Linked DNA regions of Homo sapiens. The protein of the gene in region 2 purifies or fractionates together with the protein of the main gene of each other region. This does not show direct contact. Each region holds a gene or a part of one and is shown on either strand. Other genes may lie near its edges.

What was found.
Region 1: the proteins of NLRP6 (region 2) and TRIM38 purify together in Homo sapiens (affinity purification with western blotting, with the first as the bait; one study listed by BioGRID). This does not show direct contact.

Annotation. Positions count from the first base shown.
Region 1 is NC_000006.12:25,983,008-25,986,829, reverse strand, and holds part of TRIM38 (E3 ubiquitin-protein ligase TRIM38), read right to left. Parts: intron 3,667-3,822; coding exon 3,143-3,666; 3' UTR 1-3,142. UniProt on the Homo sapiens protein: E3 ubiquitin-protein and E3 SUMO-protein ligase that acts as a regulator of innate immunity. Acts as a negative regulator of type I interferon IFN-beta production by catalyzing 'Lys-48'-linked polyubiquitination of AZI2/NAP1, leading to its degradation.
Region 2 is NC_000011.10:281,138-283,700, forward strand, and holds part of NLRP6 (NACHT, LRR and PYD domains-containing protein 6), read left to right. Parts: coding exon 1-702; intron 703-1,564; coding exon of another isoform or gene 1,565-1,567; coding exon 1,568-1,660; exon of another isoform or gene 1,661-1,730; intron 1,731-2,563.

The DNA.
Region 1 (3,822 bases), on a different chromosome or scaffold from region 2:
GCTCTCTTGGATCCCAGGGGTAATTGAGGGGTGGCTGGAAGGAATCTGTGATTTTCTGGAGTTTCCATACACAAACAAGACCTGGATTTTCTGGGCTTCCCAGACTTCCACATCTAGACTTGCTTTAAATGGGAGAGAAATAAACTTGTTTCAGCCACTGTCATTTTGGGCTATTTTATAGAACTTAATCTAATCTTCAAGGGTACATGAATTGCTTTTCCTTAAAAAAAAAATCAGCCATAAAATCATCTTCTTTTTTCTTTTGTTCCCCACATTATTTAGTTGGAGCTCTGTAACTTTTTTTTTTTTTTTTTTTGAGACAAGGTCTTGCTCTGTCACTTAGGCTGGAATTCAGTGGCATGACCATGGCTCACTGCAGCCTTGCCCTCCTAGGCTCAAGCAATCCTCGTCTCAGCCTCCTGAGTAGCTGAAACTAAGGCACATGCCACCATGCCCAGCTAATTTCTTTTCTTTTAGAGATGGGAGCCTTGCCCAGGCTAGTCTCAAACTCCTAGCCTCAAGTGATCCTCCCATCTCAGCCTCCCAAAGTGACAGGATTACAGGTGTGAGCCACCATGCCTGGCTGCTCTGTAAGTGTCTGAATTTCATTTTGTATTTATCAGTCTGTTTAGATTTTCTTTCCCTTCTTGGGTCAGTTAGGCCATTGGTTTCTTTTTAAAGGTTTTCAAATTTATTTGCATCTAATTCTTCAAATTACTCTCAAAATTATTCCAGTATATATTCTTTTGTTCCTATTTTCTTCTGTATTCTTTATTAAAATAGCTAATGATTTATCTAGCAGGACTTATATTCTTTCCATAACTTTCCTGCACCCCAATTAATCTCCAATTTTATATTTCTTCTGGCCTTCCTTATAGTTTCCACAGGTTTATTTTATTCATTTTTTAAAACTTTTATTTAATTGTTTATTTTATTATCATTCTTTCTTATTCAGCAATCTAAGTGCTTAGGGATATAGAATTTCCTCTAAGCAGCATATGCTAGGCTTTAACAATGTTAGGGAGGCCTCCCCTTTCTGGGGAAGACCACACTTACATTAACACAGGACTGTGGGATGCCAAGAGGTAGAGAAGAGCTTATGAATATCCAGATTACATCTTCACTGATCCTGCACAAAGGTGGGGTTCCTCGGTTACCCACTGGGTCCTATTACCCAAGTCTGGGTCAGCATACCGAGACTACGGGTATATAGAACAAGTGCAACTGGCGATAATCCTTCTGTTGGGGAGAAAAATCTTTTTTTTCTATTCATCTTAGGTTCTCCATCTGTGGCCCTATCAAGTAGACTAACAAAAGACAGATTGACAAGACAGAAACAAAGCATGTGCATTGTACAAACACAGGGGAGTACTGAGATGAATACTCAAAAGAGGATTTAGAACTTGGGCTTATATAGCATTTTAAGAAAAGAATACATTTTTTAAGTGACAAGGAAGACGAAAAGGACTTTGAGTTTCTAGTGCAGTAAATTGTGGGAAGGCAACTTTTTCTTTCCCTTTTTTTTTTTTTTTTTTTAAAAAAAAAGACTTCTCTGGTGCTATGTCCAGGCTGATAAGAGTCTAAAGTCTCTGGTGACTAACTTTTGTTCTTCCCCGAGTAAGAAGACACCTTCACAATTTCATATCCTGCTTTTAGGCAAATAGGGAGAGGGCAGAGGTGTTTGTTTGTTTTTAATCTATTTTTTTTCTCAATTGTCTTCAACTCAAAATACTTCTTATGCCAAAGATGGCATATTCTGCTACCCTTCACTTACTACTTACAACCCAGCCTCTATCATCATAATTAGAACTTCTGACCCTGGGGAACATGGGCAATAGTTTGAACTCTTTTATATCTCCCTTAGGCAGAGATGGAGGCCCAGCCATGCCTCTGACATCTAGACACAACTGTTGCTTCATTTCTCCTATTCTCAGAGGTGATGTTGTAGGACTTCAACAAATATCAGTAAACATTAATTTTTTTTTTCCTTGAGGCACAGCATGATCTTGGCTTACTGCAGCTGCTGCAGGCTCAAGCAATTCTCCTGCCTTGGCCTCACGAGTAGCTGGGTTACAGGCCCCTACCACCATGCCCGGCTAATTTTTGTATTTTTAGTAGAGACAGGGTTTCACCATGTTGGCCAGGCTGGTGTTGAACTCCTGACCTCAAGTGATCCACCTGCCTCAGCCTCACATAGTTCTGGGATTACAGGCGTGAGCCACCATGCCTGGCCATCAATTTTTATGTCAACTCTAAATTATAACATTTAGCAATTTTGTGACTTTTTATGGTCATCATTAATGTTGTTTATGTTTTAGTTGTAGTCCTGTCATTACTCACTCGGGTATGGTAATTTGGTCTTTTTCAAAATGAAGTTAAGGTCTATTTGCTCTTCTCTGAATCATAATAAGAACTGCCAACAGCCATTTCAGCAATAACTATTTACTGAGATTTTAAAATATTTCAAGGTAATTGGTCCTAGCAGACTGGAAAATACCAAATTCTTTTCCAGAACTGAATCCCCCATCAAAGTTCAATTTTACTCATAATTCCCTTTTCATTTGAAGCATCTCATTGTAAGCCAGTCTTAACCCTTCTCTCACACTTTGCTTGGCTGTTTCTCAGGTAGAACTCAGTAAGTCTGGTAGCCTCCAGGACTGCCGCTTAGATTATTAAACAACATGTCAGTGGTTGGAAGAGTCAATGTTATTTTGATTTTTCTGTTTTGTTTTGTTTTAAATGCAGTTGGCGGATAATTGCAGCTTTCTTTCATTCCCTACATGAGTTCAAATGGCAGCAAACAAACTAGGAGAACGCAGACCTTCTGACTTGTGGGTACCCCTACTCATCACCTGAAGACCCTTGGAAATCAAAGCCCTGACCCATTAAAGACGGATGGAGACAGCAACATACGATCATCACTATTATCTTGCTTTGCCCCAGTCCAGGTTAACCATCTGTGGTATTTTTAGTTGCTAAGTCCATATATTCAACATAAATCAATTATATATCCACTAAAATCTCAGCACTAGTCTAACTACTAAGGAAATGACAGCGAAGAAAACAGACCAAACGTCTGCCCTTATGGGATTTATATTATTTTCTCTGTGCTGGTTAAACCAAGGAGCTTCTGCTCTTTTCCTTAGTCACCTGGGGGAGGCAGAAACAAAGGAGAATATTGATAAACCTGGAAATAGGGCCGGAGAGTATCAGAGAAGGAAGCCTTCGGGAAAGTAAAGATGTGGCAGCCAGTATTCCCGTTATAAAAGGATACAACTCCGGCCTCATAGTCCAGAAAAATTCCCACAAGCAGGGGCTGCTCATGCAGATGAAGGGAAGTTGGGGGAGAAGTAAGTGCTACATAGCCTTTCTTTTTGCACAGCCTGAGGGTCCAGAATCCAGACTGAGGCTCTTGCTTCATGCCAGTGCCCCTCTGCACATTTTCCATACAAACTCCTAAATCCCATCCGGTTCCTTCGCCAACATCCACTTCAAAGTAACGTCTTCCTGAGGTGAAGCCTTCACAACCCAAGACACAGGGGAAGGCAGTAAATCTCCTGGAAGATGTGTCCTGATTCTCCTGGGTGTATCCACGAGTCACTTGTCTCCGATCCTCAGAGAGAATTAGTTCGTGATGAGCTGTATCTGGATCCAGAGTCACACTAACTGCAAAACAAAACAAAACAAACAAAAATAATTTTGTTGCTGTGAAGAACACAGGTTATTTTATTTTATTTTATTTTGAGATGGAGTGTTGCTGTCACCCAGGCTGGAGTGCACTGGCACTATCTCAACTCACTGCAACCTCCACCTCCTGGATTC
Region 2 (2,563 bases):
GGAGCTTCGTGGCTCCAAAGTGCAGACGCTGTTTCTCAGCAAAAAGGAGCTGCCGGGCGTGCTGGAGACAGAGGTCACCTACCAGTTCATCGACCAGAGCTTCCAGGAGTTCCTCGCGGCACTGTCCTACCTGCTGGAGGACGGCGGGGTGCCCAGGACCGCGGCTGGCGGCGTTGGGACACTCCTGCGTGGGGACGCCCAGCCGCACAGCCACTTGGTGCTCACCACGCGCTTCCTCTTCGGACTGCTGAGCGCGGAGCGGATGCGCGACATCGAGCGCCACTTCGGCTGCATGGTTTCAGAGCGTGTGAAGCAGGAGGCCCTGCGGTGGGTGCAGGGACAGGGACAGGGCTGCCCCGGAGTGGCACCAGAGGTGACCGAGGGGGCCAAAGGGCTCGAGGACACCGAAGAGCCAGAGGAGGAGGAGGAGGGAGAGGAGCCCAACTACCCACTGGAGTTGCTGTACTGCCTGTACGAGACGCAGGAGGACGCGTTTGTGCGCCAAGCCCTGTGCCGGTTCCCGGAGCTGGCGCTGCAGCGAGTGCGCTTCTGCCGCATGGACGTGGCTGTTCTGAGCTACTGCGTGAGGTGCTGCCCTGCTGGACAGGCACTGCGGCTGATCAGCTGCAGATTGGTTGCTGCGCAGGAGAAGAAGAAGAAGAGCCTGGGGAAGCGGCTCCAGGCCAGCCTGGGTGGCGGCAGGTGCGTCTCCAGGGCAGAGATACTCTCTTGTGTGTGAGGTGTGTGTGCCGGTGCAAACCTGTGCACCTCAGTGTCCATCTGGCATGGGGCGCACCTCCAGACCAGACCCTGGCTCCCCAGATGGGGAGGCTTTGACCACCTCCTTGCAAGGCAACCACTGAATTCCTATCTTCTTCCCCAGGGTGTCCTCACCATGCCCACCGTCAGCCACCCACAACCTATGAAAACTTCCTAGTATGGCCCTACAGCTCTGGCCCAGCCCTTCTTCCCATTTTACTTTCTGACAATAAGCTCTGGAACACACGATGCCCTCTGTCCAGAGCCTCTGCACTTGCCCTTCCCTCCACCTAGAATATTCTGTTTGCTGCCTGTCCTGCAAGTCTGCCCTGGCTCCCCCAGCTGGCTGGGGACCCAACTGGCTCCAGAAGTACCCTTTCGACCACCCTGCTGTGACATCTGCCCCACACCTCCACCAGACCCTCGGCTCCTCCAGGGCAAGGCTTTTGCCAGAGTTCCTTTGAATATAGCTCCAATTCAGCCCCTGCCCAGGGGCTTGGCATCTGTTGAGAGGATGAATGTCACGGTGTTGGCAGGGGCTGGGCCTGGGGACCCAAAGACCCATGTAGAGGATGTGGGTGATACCGTCCCACTGACCTCACTCAGACACCCCAGTGGGATGATGCCTGGGCCACAGATGAGTGGTTTTGCTCTGGGTTTGGTTGGGGGAGTGTGAAGGGGGTGGCTCAGCAAGGAGGTGAGGAGGAGGGGCAGCTCTGAGACCCCAGGACTACAGATAGACAGGAGTCCTTTCCGGCAGGCACTGTGAGGAGCAGGGTGGGCTTCACCTTCCTCTCTCTCCCAGCAGTTCTCAAGGCACCACAAAACAACTGCCAGCCTCCCTTCTTCATCCACTCTTTCAGGCAATGACTGACCCACTGTGCCATCTGAGCAGCCTCACGTGAGTGGCCACACCCCCAGCTCTTCCCACGGAGCGGGCTGAGAGCAGGATGCCCTGGGCAGAGACGGAAGTATGACCTAGGAAAGAAGGCTGAGGGGTCAGACCAGAGCCTGAGGCCTGTGGGTGCTGGAGATGGCAGGCTCTGCCCACACAGAGCAGAGGGAGGAGGGGATGAGGGTCTGGGGCTTCATTACCAGGTTAGGTACTGGTAGGAAAAGGTTGGTCCTGGTGAGTGGAAAGCAGCTAAGCACACTGAGGGAGGGATTAAAGAAGACAAGAGTGTATTTTCCTTCTGAAGGGAGGCTGCCGTTGGAAACTGCTGGGTTCTCAGAAGCAGTGGAGGAAGGTGTTCAAGCGCAGGCTCCAAGGTCAGGCTGTCTGCAAATGCTAGCCGGCTTCTGCGTGCCCAGTAGCAAGTCCATCTGTCCGAGCTTCCATTTCCTCCCCTGTGAAATGGAGCCAGTAGATCCAGAGAGTTGGGGTGAGATTTAATGTGGCTACACATGTACAGTTCTTTTTTTTTTTTTTTTTTTTGAGACGGAGCCTCGCTCTGTCGCCCAGGCTGGAGTGCAGTGGTGTGATCTCAGCTCACTGCAAGCTCCGCCTCCCGGGTTCACGCCATTCTCCTGCCTCAGCCTACTGAGTAGCTGGGACTACAGGTGCCCGCCACTACGCCCGGCTAATTGTTTGTATTTTTAGTAGAGACAGGGTTTCACCGGGTTAGCCAGGATAGTCTCGATCTCCTGACCTCGTGATCCACCCGCCTCTGCCTCCCAAAGTGCTGGGATCACAGGCATGAGCCACCGCGCCCGGCCACATGTACAGTTCTTACATGGCAATAACTTGCCAGTCACTCTTAGCTACCACCAAGTGAGCAGAAAGGAAGAGGAAATCTAGGAACTA